Regions from separate parts of the Homo sapiens genome. Here region 1 is linked to region 2. A link means that fine-mapping ties the variant in region 2 to the expression of a gene that starts in the linked region. Tissue or cell type: whole blood. Region 2 holds a variant in brackets; the other region holds the start of a gene. All regions are shown on one strand. Distances are between the middles of the regions.

Region 1 (8,104 bases), 25 kb after region 2:
AAATACAAGAATTAGCCAGGCGTGGTGGGGCACACCTGTAATCCCAACTACTCGGAGGTTGAGGCATGAAAATTGCTTGAACCTGGGAGGCAGAGGTTGCAGTGAGCCAGGATCGCACCACTGCGCTCCAGCCTAAAAAAAACACACAGGTTGACCCAGATACTTACTTGTTGCTCCAGGCACTGCATACAATAGCAAGTAAGACAGACATAATTTCTGCCCTCATGAAGTTTATATCTTGTGTTTAGAAAGACAAAACACAACTACAGAGAGAAATAGAGTAATTACTAGTGATGTTAAATGCCAAGAAGGAAACTAATCAGAGAGTTACACAGAGCATAAAAGGGGTCCTGACAAGACAAGGAGTCAGGGAAAGCCTGTCTGTGGGGGTGACGTGTGGGCTAAGGCCAGAAGAAAAGGCACCAGCATTGTGAAGAACAGAGACAAGTATCCATGGTACTGAGGACAGCTTGCGTGCAGACCCTTTCATATGAGCAGTAGTGACAGAGCACAGGGATGGCATTGGGACTTCTGGAATCCAGGCCCACTTCCTACTTCTCACTATGGGACAGCCCTAGGGCTCAGATCTTCTTTGGCAACATGGGAAAATGCTCCTCTCTTCAGGGTATGATATGGCCTTAGTCCACAGCTCCCCATAGAGGGGTAACCCTGTCATGGAGACATCCCAGGCTCAGCTCTGCTGATGACACCAATTTACAGATGAGAAAGCCAAGGGTCACACAGGTCAAGTCATTTGTCCAAAGTACACAGCACGAAAGCAGCAGGGATGAGCTGTGACAAACATGAGAGTGATGTGTGTGTCAACTTCATTCAGAAGATCTTATAAGCAGAACTTCCACCTGGAACATTGCCTGAAAAGCGAAGACTCTGCCCTATGAGACCTAGTGTTCACTAGTAAGAATCTGACCTTATAGATCAGGTTCAACAAATATTTTTGAGCAACTATTACGGGCTAGGCTCTGTATTTGATGCAGCAACCAAGCAGTAGAACATGAACTCCAGAGTTAAATCTGGCTCCTCCACTTAACAGGTATGAGACCCTACGCATGTTACCTAATATTTCAGAGCCTGAGATTCCTCAGCTGTAAAATGAAGGTGATATTTCCCTTGTAAGATTTTTGTAAGGATTACACAAGATAATGCATGTATAATACTTTACATTAATAAATAATGCTATAAGGCCGGGCGCGGTGGCTCACAGCTGTAATCCCAGCACTTTGGGAGGCCGCGGTGGGTGGGTCACGAGATCAGGAGTTCGAGACCATCCTGGCCAAAATGGTGAAACCCCGTCTCTACTAAAAACACAAAAATTATCCAGGCGTGGTGGCACGTGCCTGTAATCCCAGCTACTTGGGAGGCTGAAGCAGGAGAATTGCTTGAACCCGGGAGACGGAGGTTGCAGTGAGCCAAGATCATGCCGCTGCACTTCAGCCTGGGCGACAGAGAAAGACTCTGTCTCAGAAAAAAATAATAATTTAAAAATAAAAAAAATGAATAATAAAAAAAAGATGCAATGTATTATTATTTATTGTAAGATCCATGAAGGCAAGAATGTATCTATCTTGTTCTCTGCTATGTCCGTAGTGACTAGCAAAAATGCCTGGCCCAGACAAGGTGTTACATAAATGTTTACTGAATTAAATGAGGAAAACATACATGGCGGGGGTGTGGAAAGTGGCAATATCTCCTTGAATATGCTCCAATACCATGGGTTACTTGTTAAATGGACACAGTGATTCCCTAGCCCTTGTTCCAGGTTCGGCTGTATACCCATGAAGGATCATTCTCATCTACACTGAAGGTCAAGGACCAGGCTGGGGAAGCCTTACCCAAGATATGGCATCCCATAGGGTGTTCGGGGAGACACGGGAAGACATCCATTGGAAGGCATCCTTCCATCCATGGGACCTTGGACCCCCGCTCGTGCCTGGGCCATGGGGACCTGACCTAGATGATGAAATAAGAGGCTATCAAGTAGGGGCAAAGGGAGACCAGGGACTGGGTGCGGTGGCTCACACCTGTAATCCCAACAATTTGGGAGGCTGAGGTGGGTGGATCACGAGGTCAGGAGTTCAAGACCAGCCTGGTCAAGATGGTGAAACCCCATCTCTACTAAAAATATAAAAATTGGCTGGGTACAGTGGCTCACACTGTAATCCCAGCACTTTGGGAGGCTGAGGCGGGCAGATCATGAGATCAGGAGATCAAGACCATCCTGGCTAACATGGTGAAACCCCGTCTCTACTAAAAATACAAAAAAAATTAGCCAGGCGTGATGGTGCATGCCTGAAATCCCAGCTACTTGGGAGGCTGAGGCAGCAGAATCGCTTGAACCCAGGAGGCGGAGGTTTCAGTGAGCCAAGATCGCGCCACTGCACTCCAGCCTGGGCGACAGAGCGAGACTCTGTCTCAAAAAAAATAAAATAAAATAAAAATTAGCAGGGTGTGGTGACGGGTGCCTGTAATCCCAGCTACTCGGGAGGCTGAGGCAGAGAACTGCTTGAACCTGGGAGGCGGAGGTTGCAGTGAGCTGAGATTGCCCCACTGCACTCCAGCCTGGGCGACAGAATGAGACTCCATCTCAAAAAACAACAAAAAAAAAAAAATAAAAAAAAAGGGTGACTAGGGGAGGAAATGAGTGGTAAAATGGCAGTATCTTACCTGTCGAGGTTAGGCACAGGAACCAGCAAAGTGGAGGAGGTAGTCTGAGGCCCATCTGGGCTGGTGGACTTAGGAGTCACCCTCCAGAGGCTAGGTCCCAGTGTACGGGGAAGAGCTGTACAGAACAACCAAAACTCAGGCACCTCAACAAGAACCCAGGAATCACTGTCATCTGCCTCAGCAGAGGTTCTTAAACATGGATACACATGGGAATCTTTTATCTACTACAGATTCTAGGGTAGTACCCCAGAACCAATAAACTAAGATTTCTCAGGGTAGAGCATCCACGTTTTTTAAAAGCGCCCATGTGATTCTGCTGGTCTCCTGTGGATGCCAACCACTGTTCTAAGATGACCAAACGTTCATACATATACTCTCACTAATGTTTGGGGCTCTTTGACTCTAAACCTCTCCTCTCTTCACTGGCTATGCCTACTCCATTGGCCCCTAATCCTCTTTCATTCATTCAGTCCACCATCTCCTGCCATTGGACTCCTCCCCCTCCCAACAGTCCTACCAACTTCTTGGACTCCACCCTCTTCTAGCTAGGCCCATCCACATCTCAAATTCCAGCAGCCCCTGACTTCCCCGCCCTCTTTCAAGCCCCGCCTTCCTTGGCTCTAACCCGGCCCACGATCGCTTCGGCTGTTTCCTCGGGCCCGCCCCCACTCCAGTTCGGTCTTTGCGGCCCAGAGTGACGCTGGTTGCTTGGACGTCCCTTACCTCGGCCCAGGAGTCCCGGGAGGCGCCACATGTCGCTGCCAGCACCACAGAGAGCTCGCAGCCGAAAGCGCGAGACCAACCCTTGGGACAGCGGCTAGAAAGGCCGCCGCGATGCCCCGAGTGGCCGAGTACCCGAGGAAGCTCTGAGCTGGCCAATTAGAAGGGAGCCCGGCCGGAAAGACGGCGCTGCAGAGAGGAAGTGCAGGGCGGAGGCGTATTCGGGGCCAGCGGGGCGGTGACGTGCGGCAAGGGCATGGGGATGTGGGCCCAGGCTTCCGTGGGGGATGTCCTTGGCGTTCCCAAGCCGAGGCAGGGGACCGCAGGTGGCGAAGCGAGCCACCCGGAAGCGGGACCTTCGGGAAGTGGGGCTGGAGCGGCTTCAGGGAAGTAAGAGGACCTTGCAGACCGTGAGGCCGCGAACCAGGAAAGGCTTCTCCAGGCCCTAGGCTTGAGGAAGTGGGAGTAACCAGGCTCCATGGGCGGAGGAGAGGACCCCCGGGGTCCCACAAATGAAGCCAGTAGGCCGGGCTTCCGTCCAAGGCCACCTGCCTGGAGATGCCAGGCCAGGGCCCGACTGCGTAGGCGATGAGAAACCGCACAGGGCAAGGCTTTGATTCTGGGTTCTAGCTCCGGTCCAGCTTTATCTCACTGTGCAGCTTCATGCCAACCCCTTACCTTGTCGGGGCCCCAATACGCGCCAGATAGGGTCAAATGGAATGACTGGCCTGACAAGCTGAGATTCTTGGGTAGCTCCTTTCAAAATACCTGAGACACCACCCGCGCCCTATTAGAACCCTCGTCTTCAGACGTGGCAAAAGTTATGTATGTGTTTGTTCTTTTGTGGAAAAGAATAGTTCCGTCTGGTCCCGGTGGCTCACGCCTGTAATCCCAGCACTCTGGGAGGCCGAGGCGGGCGGATCACCTGAGGTCAGGAGTTTGAGACCAGCCTGGCCAACATGGTGAAACCCTGTCTCTACTAAAAATACAAAAATCAGTTGCGCGTGGTGGTGGGCGCCTGTAATCCTAGCTACTCTGGAGGCTGAGGCAGGAGAATTGCTTGAACACGGGAGACGGGAGGTTGCAGTGAGCCGAGATCGCGCCTGGGCGACAGAGTGAGACTCCATCTCAAAAAAAAAAGGAAAAAAAAATAGTTCCTTTCACCACATTTGAATCCGTGAAATAACGGAGCTTACATTCAAGTATAAGATGTTTAGATTTCCTCCCTATCCCCTTCCTCCAGGTATGTGACTTTAAGGTGAGTGGAAGTTGCTACCTGGGGTAAAAGTGTACTGGGGGCACCTACTTTTAGACCGAGGCATGTGGCTTGAAAGTTGTATTAATATGTTAGACAACTTTTTTTTTTCTTTTGAGACGGATTCTCTGTCGCCCAGGCTGGAGTGCAATGGTGTGATCTCGGCTCACTGCAACCTCTGCCTCCCAGGTTCAAGCGATTCTCTTGCCTCAGCCTCCCAAGTAGCTGAGATTACAGGCGCCTGCTACCACATCCTGCTAATTTTTGTATTTTTAGTAGAGACAGGGTTTCACCATGTTGGCCAGGTTGGTCTCGAACTCCTGGACCTCAGGTGATCCTCCTGCCTTGGCCTTCCAAAGTGCTGGGATTACAGGCTTGAGCCACCGTGCCTGGCCGTTAAAGAACTTTTGAGCCATATATCAGCCCGTTCTAGGATCTGAGAAGACAGCTGAGGAAAGAGCATTTGTGGCCTCCAGGAACACGGTCCAGTGGATTAGTAGTGGGCTTTGGAGTCCCACAAATCTGGGTTGGAATCACAGCTTGCTTACTTCGTAGGTATGTTATCTTGTGCAGGTTCCTTAACCACACTAAGTCTCAAGAGCTTCATCCGTAAAATAGGGAAAATACCTCATGCAATTGTTGTGAGGTTTAAATAAAATAATATGTTAAAAATGTTTAACTTGGTGTTTTGGGAATACCCTTCAAAAAATAAAAAATAAATAAATAAAAATGTTTAGCATAGTTCCTGGCACATAGTAAAAGCCCAGTAAGTGTAAGTTGCTATTAATTATATTAGTAGGGGAGGTAAGCAGGCAAGTGTAATAGGTTAGGTTCCCATAGAAGCATGAACAATGGATTGTGGGATCCCTTGGAAGGCTTCAGAAAAGTAGTTGCATTTGAGCGGGGCCTTTAAATGTGAATAAGAGCTTGCCAGGTGGAGAAGGAAGAAAGGCATTGCAAGCGGAGGAAACAATAAATAAAGGCCCAGAAGTTTGAATGTTGGACAACTATTCAGAAATAGCCTTGCTTCGGGATTTGGGACGGCAACCTTTCACATTCCTTGTGTTGCTGTCCCGAAAATAAAGTAACAAACAAGTATGCTGGTTTGGCTGTGTTCTTCCTCCTGCGTCTTTTGTACCCTCCTTCCTTTCAGACTATCCATAGTTTGTGTCATTTCTCAAGGTTCAGCCCAATCCCAGCTCTTCAGTGTAGACTCCTCAACTGTTTGAGCCCTCCCTGCTCCCTACTTTTCCCAATTCCTATAGCACTTAATTTCTTACTACACAGTTTAGCAGTAATTATATGCTGTCTTGGTATTTATCTCATTTGTGTAACTCTAGCCTTCCCAGTTCTCTCCTTTCAGGACAGGAATAGCATTTCCCTATTCCGTGTCCCACATAGGGCTTGACATAAATTGTCAGCCCAAAGAATATGTCCAAACAATCCCTGTTGACAGAACATCTTGTACTAATGATTATTACAGCCAAGGGTACCAGACCCCAGCCAGGGGATTTACTGATTTGAGTGGAAATGTATTCATTGCAGATACAAACATTCATTGAGGGCCCTCCCTGTTTGAAGCTAGTTGAAAAGTTTTGAAGGAGAGACTAGGACATCTGCCCCCATGTATAGAATGGCATTATGGCATCTCTTGTCCCCATAAACAGAAACATCAGACCACTTGTGTGAGGGTAGATGGCGAGGGTGGCTGGAGCCCACAGCAGATCACCTGTTGAGTGCAGCTCACGGGAGTGCTGTTGGTTGAATGGCAGCTGCCTCAACTGCCAGACCCCAAACTCTGTGGTTTTGGATTGTGGCTCAGTCCCTCTACACAGTCCCTCAAGTTGACTCAATCCTCCACAAAGGTAAACTGACACTGGGAACCTATTGCCTGCTGTCCAGTTAATCACCTTTCATGATGACTACACATGCCATTGTGTACTTTGTGTACTGTCACTACAGTGAGTATTCTAGATACTTGTTGCCTTCATTTTTGTAGGCATTCTTAATTTGCATTAATCAAATATATGACAGCTTATTTAGTGCTAAAGGATATGCTAAGTATATAACAATTTTAAAACATGGATGTGGGCAGGGCGCAGTGCCTCACGCCTGTAATCCCAGCTCTTTGGGAGGCCGAGGTGGGTGGTTCACGAGGCCAGGAGTTCAAGACCAGCCTGGCCAACATGGTGAAACCCCATCTCTACTAAAAAAAATACAAAAAATTAGGCGTGGTGGTGCGCATCTGTAATCCCAGCCATTTGGGAGGCTGAGGCAGAAGAATCACTTGAACCCAGGAGGCAGAGGTTGCAGTAAGCTAAGATCGCACCATTGCACTCCAGCCTGGGCGACAGAGCAAGACTCTGTCTTGAGGAAAAATTAAAACAAAACAAAACAAAACATGGATGTGGTCCTTGCCCTCACAGAAAATAGCCTAGGAGTGCAAACAAAGTCAGTAAGCAATTAAAATACAGAGTGGTGTTTTAGTTACTTATTGCAGCATAACAAACACCCCAAAATTGAGTGGCTTAAAACAATCATTATCTCTCACAGTTCTGCAAATTGACTGGGCTCAGCTGGGCAATTCTGCTGGTCTCACTTGGGGTCTCTCATGAGGTTGTAGTCAGATGGCAGTCATATGAAGACTCAAGTAGGGCATTGGAAAGGCTGGGCCTCTTTCTCCATGTAGTCTCAGGTCCCCTCTGCGCCACATGACCTCTCCAGCTGTGTCGCTGAACTTCTTACACAGTGGCTCAGAGCTTCCAAAAGTACACAAGTGGAAGCTGGCAGGAACTGGCATAGCATCACTTCTGCACTCTGTTGGTTAAAGCAACTCACAGGGTCAGCCCAGAATCAGTGTGGGAGGGGAAAACATAAGGTCACAAATACTGGGAAGTAGACTTTGGAGACAAGCAAGTGCTGTTGTGAAGAAAGTACAGAGTGCTATGGGAACACCCAGGGAAGGCCCATAACCTAGGCATGGAAGTCAGGAAGACTTCCTGGAAGCAGTGATGCTAAATTAACCTGAATGATGAGGCCTGGAAACTAACCAGGTGAAGAAGAGGAAAAGAAACCCAGTTCAGGCAGGGGACACAGCTGACTGATACAAAGTTCCAGAAAGGCAAAGAAAGCACAGTTTAAGATCACTGTAGCTGGAGCCGGGAGGGAGGCATGGAGTCATGGCGATGGGGTGGTGATAGGCCTTTAGTCTGGAGAGGTAAATAGCGCAAGGTCATAACGCCTTGTAAGCCCGTAAAACATTTGGACTCTGTCCTGAAGGCACGAGACATCTAGGAAGGGTTTTGGCAAGGGAGTGACCAGGCCAGAGGGATCCAAGAAAGGCTATTGGCTGCTGTATTAGTGGGGGTCAAGCCCTCATTTTCACCCTGTGCCTTCTAGGCCAGTGACCTCACCTTCAGCCCTGAGAAAGCTGAGTCATCACCTCAG
Region 2 (8,104 bases):
TTGAATGAATGAAAAGATGAATAAATGAATAATTCAATGACACCATTTTGCCTTCTCTACAACATAGTCTTACATCTGGTCAACAAAAATTGGCCGAATGTCCAAATACTGCTAAAGGGGAACATAACTCTTTAAGATAATCTTCATCAAAGTAACAACAAATTGATGGTCAGGAAATGCCTTTTTCACCCCATCTCTCAGAGTCCACCAGGTGCAGGACACTCGGAGGAATGAGTATGAGGGGACAGGCCCAGAGGGTCCTCTTGCTCTCCTTCAGACACTCAGGTCCTGGGGTGACATGACAGAGCAGGGGACCTGCCCGCCCAGGTCCCTGTCTCTGTCACTGGGCACCATCCCCCATCTGATCACACAAACATCTGAAGCCAGAGGAAAGACTATAAAAAGAAAGCACCGGCATTGAGGGAAACATCCGGCGAGGAAGTGTGCTGAGTCGGAATTGTGTGGAGTCAACAGATTTTTCCTGTCTTGTAGCAAATCTCCCAGCTGCTGTCCTTGCTGCATCAGGGCCAATTCCAGCCCAAACCAAACCACCGAGGAAATAAGTACTTGGCCAAGCCAGGAGGCAGCAGGTAAGCAGCACGTAGCCCCCACAGGCATCTCAAGGCCCCTACTGGCCGCCCCTCATCACTGCAGCCTCTGTGAGTGAGGAAGGGTGAGCACAAGTCAGACACCGGTCCCCTGGGAGGGTGCAGCAGACAGCATCCATCCTCCCACCCTGGGAGTTTTGGTCGTGAGGTGACTGTATTGATAGTATTTACAGGACCTAGAAGTCCTGTAGGACTAACTAGCTGTATTGATAAATACCATCAATACAGTAGTCACCAAGGAAATGACCTCATCCCTGAGACTGTATTTGTCCCAATTACAGAGGTGCTGTAAATTGCCTTTATATCTGTAACTGTCACCTCTCTTTCTCTTGACCCATAAACATAATATGAAGGCTCCCCACTAAAGACATGGCTGTGTGGGCGTGTCCCTTTGGGCAATCCTAGAATTGAAGACACCTTAAGAGAACATCAAATCCAACTTCTTGTTACGGATGGAGAAACTGAGGCTCTGAGTAGCTTGATTCAAACCAGCTATGTAAACTTGAGCAAGTGAGATAATCTCTCAGGACCTTGGTTTCCCCATCTGTAAAACAGAACCCATCCCATTTCCCTTGTGGTAATGGGGTGAGGATTTCATAATCAATTGTATTCTAAGCCCATAGCCCAGCAACTGACACATAGTAGGTGCACACACAATGCTAACTCCTTTCCCCTTGAAGCAATTTTGCTAAAGGTCATGTAACAAGTGAGTGGCAAAGCTGGGACCAGCTCTCAGAGTTCCTGACTCCTGCATCAGTGCTCTTGCCCTGACAACTTACAGCTTCTTTTTACAAGGATGGTGAGAGGTAGTGTACTGCAGGGGTGAGTCCACACACTCCAGGGTCACACTGGCCTGGATTTGAAGTCTTGCTTTATCTCTTAATCTATGGGGACCTTGGGCAACCTGCAAAATCTTCACAAGTCTTGGTTTTCTCATTTGTACAATGGGTTGATTAAAGAGAACCCCTTACAGGTGTGGAAGGTTTGAATAAGACGGTGCATGGACCTTGCATCGCATAAGGCCTGACTCAGACTCACTGCTCAAAAACATTAGTTGTCATTATCACCCACACACTTGCCACCTCCCTGCTCATTTCTTCACAGCAGCAGAAATGGCTACAGGGGAACAAAACCAAACAAACAGAAGGACTCCTACGCCTTAAAACCCCTCAGGTAGCCTTCCCACCTGCTGGGATGAGGGTCCAGGCCTGTCCCCAAGTGTCTATGGGAGAGAGGGACCAGGATGGAGACAGCAGGAGACTGGGGTGCAGGTAGCAGATTCTGAGCAGCTTTAGGCTGCCTCACTCCGGCTGCACCCTCCATAGGTCTGCTCTTCTGGCCTAGGATTTGGCCTAAAGTAGGGAGGAAGGAATGTTCAGTCACTCATTCAGCACCCACTGTGTGCCACGCCCTGTTCTGAGCATCAGTAAGGGAGCAGGCAATGAGACAGGCAAAAATCCCAGCCTTCTCCTACGGACGGATGGACGGCTGCACTGGCTCCACTGAGGTTTACTAAACTCCTCCTGTGTGCCAGGCAATACCTAGACATGGGAGGGGCAACGAGAATGATATCAATGAACTCATCTTCACTTCTGTCTGCTGAGTGCTTACAATGTGCCAGGCTCTGTGGTAGGCCCCTCTACCTACAACGTCTCATTTTACCCTCACAACACCCTGTGAGGTGGGTGTTATTTATTACTCTCATTTTACAAATGAGGAAACAGAGTAAGAGGAGGGCGGGAATCACATGATCCAGGTTGGTCTGACTCTAGAGGCCAGGCTGTGTATCCAGTTCCCTATATGGGTAAATGAATGCAAACATGAATGGGCATGAATGAATGAATCTATATGGGAATGTCCCTACCCATGGACTGGTTGGTTTCTTTTGCAGGAGTGCAATCCCAGACACAGATGGCCCAAGTGCAAGGGCTGGAGGCCAGACAGACCCAGAACAGGAGGAAGGGCCTTTGGATCCTGAAGAGGACCTCTCTGTGAAGCAACTGCTAGAAGAAGAGCTGTCAAGTCTGCTGGACCCCAGCACAGGTAGGGACCCCCTGGAGTTACCTTGACCCTGCTTCTGCCCCATGGTGTCCAAGCTTCAGAGTTCTGCTCCAATCCACTGCAGGGAAAAGCCATTCTGTTTCTGTGGAGGAACATCAGCAACATTTAACTTCCCTTGCACCCTTGCAGCCTCAGAAAGTATTTTAAAGACCAGGTTCTACTTTGATTTTTTTTTTTTTTAGACAGGGTCTTGCTCTGTCACCCAGGCTGGAGTACAGTGGCATGATCACAGCATGATCACAGCTCACTGCAGCATTGACCTCCTGGGCTCAGGTGATCCTCCCACCTTAGCCTCCCAAGTAGCTGGGACTACAGGTGAGCACCACCACCACATCCCGCTAATTTTTGATTTTTTTTTTTTTTTGTAGGGACAGGGATTCACCTGTTGCCCAGGCTGGTCTCCAACTCCTGGGCTCAAGCAATCCACCCACCTCAGCCTCCCAAAGTGCTGGCATTAGAGGCATGAGCCACCTGTAATCAAAGCCAAAGTAGGCACCTGGCCTACGTTGATTATTCATTTTAAAAATCATTGTAAAAATAGTGAACATGCCAGGCACTGGGGAAGCATCTTATGTACATGATCTCATTTAAGCCTCCAACCAATCCCCTCAAGTAGATAATTATTACCTCGAATTTACAGATGAGCAAACCGAGGCTCAAAAAAATCAAGTAGCCTTCCCAGAGTCACCCAGCTCACCAGTGATTGAAGGGGAGCCAAACCCTGAGCCAGCCTGTCCTCTATGGACTTCTTACCACTCATTGGCGTTTGGTGTGTTTCAATACCCTTTCACCCTGGGAACCAGGTCAACTCTTTAATATGCTAACAATTGCAATGAAAACAAAAAGATTTTTTTGCAGAGAAATAATTAGCTTTGACAATAAATACATAATGTGAACTTGAATTCAAGAATCTGCTAGCGCCCCCCGCCCCTGCTGTGGACATTGGTCAGCCTCCTTTGGTAACACACCCCACGGCAGACCATCCCTGTGCTGTGGTTTTCTATCTATGTAGTTAACACTGTTTCTCATGTGCTCCATCTGGCTGCAGACACACTGAAGGTATGGCAGGGACTTCTCTTTCCTTGGTTAAAAAATATTGCTAATGTTTATTGGGCACTTTCTATGTGCTAGGCCCTGTTCTAAGTACCTCATGAGAAAATCTTATGAGATAGGGGCTATTCATTATCCCCATTTCATAAAGGAAAAATGTGAGGGTCAGGGGTGTTTCATAATTTGCCCAAGGTTGTGCAGCTCGTGGATGGTTATTAACACAGGCAGTGTGGCTGTAAATTTTAGAGCTGTGTTGTTCAATGAGGTAGTCACTAGCGACAAGTGGCTATTTAAATTTAAGTGAATTAAAATTAAATAAAATAAAATATTCAGTTCTGCCATACCAGCCACATTTCAAGTGCTCACTGGCTATGTATGGCTGGGGGATATAGCTTTGGATTCTATCTCTATTGGTCAGCTCTGGCTGGAACCTGTGGGGTCAGTTCCCACACGGTCCTGCTTGCCCACAGCACAAAGGGTACTGAACACAGGGGCACTGTAAGGAGTTGGGGGTAAGGAAAGAGGAGGGGCAGAAAAGCCTTTGCTGCTCACAGGCTGGACTGCCATGGGGAGACTGGGATCTTGCTGCTTCAGATCTGCTTCAGATTGCTTCAGATTTGCTGCTTCGGATTCAGATTGCCCCACTTGAGAATGCGACCATGATAATGTTTTCCTGGTTGCATGAACTCACTGAACCTCACAACAACTCCACAAGATACGTACTACTGTCTCACCACTTCCTAAGAGGAAACGGGAGCTTAGAGAGGTTAAGCCATTTTCCCAAGGTCACACACACTGCCCCTAAGCTGCAAAGCTGGGAAATCAAACCCAGGTTGGCCCAGTGCCCACCTGCAGCTAGAACTGGTGGGTGATGCTGGGTGAATTCAGCATCACTTTTCAGCTGTTCTCATACGCCCCAGTGATTTTCTCA[T/C]TCCAAGCTTCACTCCTTCTGAAGCTCTCTGACCCATGTAAAAGGAAAGGCCTGATTCTATAACACCAAGAGTTCCATCCAACCTTATAGCCTCAGAGTCTCAAGGAACTAAGGTTTGCATTTCCCAAATGTTGAAGGTTAATATTTATGTTCATTCAATCATTCAACAAACATTCACTAAGTCCCAGGCATGGGGCTAAACCCAAGGATCCAGTAGGGCAGGAGCCCAACAGTGTCTCACAAGCTGCACAGTCCAGAATGCAGGGCAGAGATTCATTTATCAGTACAATAAATGACTACACATACTTCGGAATAACTTGTTCAAATTACATAAGTAATATTTGGTTAATATAGAAAAACATAGATAAACAAAAAGAGAATGGATTGCTTCTGCCCAGAGGTAATTTCAGTTAACATTTTGACATATCTCCTTCCAGTCTTTCATTCTGTGCGCAGATTTTAAAGTAACTCACCTTAGGCAAACATTAGATAAATGTTAAGTAGATGTTGTGCTTTTTTTTTTTTTTTTAATTTTTTTAAGACACTGTTTCTTAACTCCAAGACTTATAATTTCTTTCCTCTGGCTTGGTCTCTACCATCAGGCCTGGGACTGGTTTCTTGAAACAGGATTTTCTGTTAAAGGGATGGGAAAAGAAGGGTGACTGTGGCATTGCAAATGTAGGGGCCAGTTTTTTGAATTCCCAGCCACCAGGCTGACTTGCCACCGCCACTACCCCAGTCCCTCTCCTGGGACAGCCCTTGGACAGGCAGCCCCTCCCCAGCCTGACTCTAGGCCAGGGTTCCAGCAGCTTGAGAGATGATGTTGAGGAGGATTTGAGGATCTGGGGCCAGGTGGTAACAGTGCAGACCTTAGGTAGCCTGGGAATTCCAGAGGCCCCAGCTGGGCACCTGGAGTATCCAGGGGGAGGAAGGGCCAGCTCTTCAGAGAGAGGGTAGGGTGGTGCCATCATAGGCTTCAAAGTCATCAGACCTGGCATCAAATTGAGGTTTGGTTGCCTAGCAGATGTGTGACTTAACTTCTTTCAGCTTCAGTTTCCTCATCCATCAAATGGGAATAATACTCTTGACCTCAAAGGTTTGTGAAGTTAAATGAAATAATTATGTAAATTGCTCATCACGTAAGTACCTAATATGTGGTCCCTATTATTATGGATGGGAACCAAAAAAGGCAGCGCTAAGTCAGGAACTCCAGCCTTGGCAAAGAAAAGGGATTTTCCCTCCATCCTCAGCTAGTGGAGCCCTGAGGGGAGAAGGCGCCCTGAGGGGTAAAAATCCTGGATGAAATATAGAAGACACTGAGACTGGAAACACACGCCCAGATTGGGAAATTCTTCAGAAATCGGCAAATTTCTACTTCTAGGCCTTCTCCTCCTCCTGCTGCTTCCCCACTTGGTTCGCCCGGGTGTGTCAGTCGACTGCTTTCCTACCCAGGGAGCTTCCCTGTCAGGGCCTCTTCCTTCCTGTCCCCGTCTGGCCACTCTGTCTGTCCCCTGCCATTTCCCTTCCCTCCTTTGTCCACTGCCCTTGCCCTGCTCATTGCCCCACCCTCACCCGCCTGGCCCTTCCCGGAGCCTGGCCCTCACTGTGTCCCCTCCTTCCCCCACAGGTCTGGCCCTGGACCGGCTGAGCGCCCCTGACCCGGCCTGGATGGCGAGACTCTCTTTGCCCCTCACCACCAACTACCGTGACAATGTGATCTCCCCGGATGCTGCAGCCACGGAGGAGCCAAGGACCTTCCAGACGTTCGGCAAGGCAGAGGCACCAGAGCTGAGCCCAACAGGCACGAGGCTGGCCAGCACCTTTGTCTCGGAGATGAGCTCACTGCTGGAGATGCTGCTGGAACAGCGCTCCAGCATGCCCGTGGAGGCCGCCTCCGAGGCGCTGCGGCGGCTCTCGGTCTGCGGGAGGACCCTCAGTTTAGACTTGGCCACCAGTGCAGCCTCAGGCATGAAAGTGCAAGGGGACCCAGGTGGAAAGACGGGGACTGAGGGCAAGAGCAGAGGCAGCAGCAGCAGCAGCAGGTGCCTGTGAACATACCTCAGACGCCTCTGGATCCAAGAACCAGGGGCCTGAGGATCTGTGGACAAGAGCTGGTTTCTAAAATCTTGTAACTCACTAGCTAGCGGCGGCCTGAGAACTTTAGGGTGACTGATGCTACCCCCACAGAGGAGGCAAGAGCCCCAGGACTAACAGCTGACTGACCAAAGCAGCCCCTTGTAAGCAGCTCTGAGTCTTTTGGAGGACAGGGACGGTTTGTGGCTGAGATAAGTGTTTCCTGGCAAAACATATGTGGAGCACAAAGGGTCAGTCCTCTGGCAGAACAGATGCCACGGAGTATCACAGGCAGGAAAGGGTGGCCTTCTTGGGTAGCAGGAGTCAGGGGGCTGTACCCTGGGGGTGCCAGGAAATGCTCTCTGACCTATCAATAAAGGAAAAGCAGTGATTCATTCTCCTGTTTGCACCTGTCAAGAGGGAGAAGGGAAGAGTAATAGAGTGGGGTTTATTTGTCATCCAATCCCTGGCAAGACCGTCACACTGGGCCTGGACAGGAGTGGGGCACCTTGGTACACAGTAACAGGTACACAAATAGCAGACATGTGTGCTCTTACCCCTGTTCCCCTATCACTATGTTACCAACTAATCTGCTTCTCAGCTGCAAAATTAGAGCTAAGAAAGCACAACTATTTATAAAGCATTTACATGAGCCAGGCACCAGGCTTTACAATAGGATTTAATTTGATTTTCCAACAATCCTGGGAGGGAGGTATTATTAACCCCATTTCACAGACACGGATATGGGGCTTGGAGAGGTCAAGTGGCTTTCCCAAGATCAAGCAGGGAGTAGAGCCAGAGCCAGGATTTGGACCCAGGCTGGGCCAACACCAAAACCCATGCCTTCAACCTTGACACCAGCCTGCCAACCAAAGACAGGAGAAGGGAAGGCCCTGGAGGTGAGCTGTTGGCAGCAGTGAACTTGCTCGAGCTCCCTCGGGAAACACTGTTGAAAGGAACATTTCCAAAGCCATCCAGGCCCGCACCTCTCTACATTCCCAAGCACAAGGCAAAAGGAACTTGGATCTGAACTGATGCAGACCCGTTCTTTCCCAACAAGTAGCTCTTCAAGTGCGGATGTCATCTTTCCCAACCCCATTTGCGGGTAAACCTTCCTCTGTCATTGCAGGTTCAGGCTTGTGAATCCCAGAGGACGCTGTGTGAACTGGGTCTATGAAATCGGCACTGACAGCAGCCAGCCTTCCAGGGGATGGGGGAGGGAAGAAACAGCAGATATTTTCCCAAGGTTCAGCTTTATAATTTTCTTGGAAATTTCCGAGCAGCCAATCAGCTAGCTTCTAAATAGTGTGGGTCTCTCCTGGACACTGCAGGCAAAAGTTCCTCTATCTGCTCCTCTTTTTGTCCTTTCTTGGAGCTCAGT

What was found. PIP is the estimated chance that this variant, and not a neighbour inherited with it, causes the effect.
Region 1: it holds the start of DELE1, and the variant in region 2 is fine-mapped to the expression of DELE1 in whole blood (TOPMed, PIP above 0.99).

The regions. Positions count from the first base shown.
Region 1 is chr5:141,919,274-141,927,377 of GRCh38, reverse strand. It overlaps DELE1 (DAP3 binding cell death enhancer 1), which reads right to left and starts at 3,507. Exons shown (of 12, transcript NM_014773.5): 1 at 3,406-3,507; 2 at 2,683-2,797; 3 at 1,851-1,968. The coding sequence starts at 3,436. RefSeq lists an enhancer at 3,113-3,626.
Region 2 is chr5:141,943,979-141,952,082 of GRCh38, reverse strand. It overlaps PCDH12 (protocadherin 12), which reads left to right. Exons shown (of 4, transcript NM_016580.4): 2 at 493-590; 3 at 2,500-2,651; 4 at 6,278-8,104. The coding sequence ends at 6,702. It also overlaps a transcript of RNF14 not described here. Among named protein-coding and RNA genes, the nearest start is that of PCDH12, 10 kb to the left of the region's middle. The variant T/C (reference allele first, on the strand shown) is at 4,651.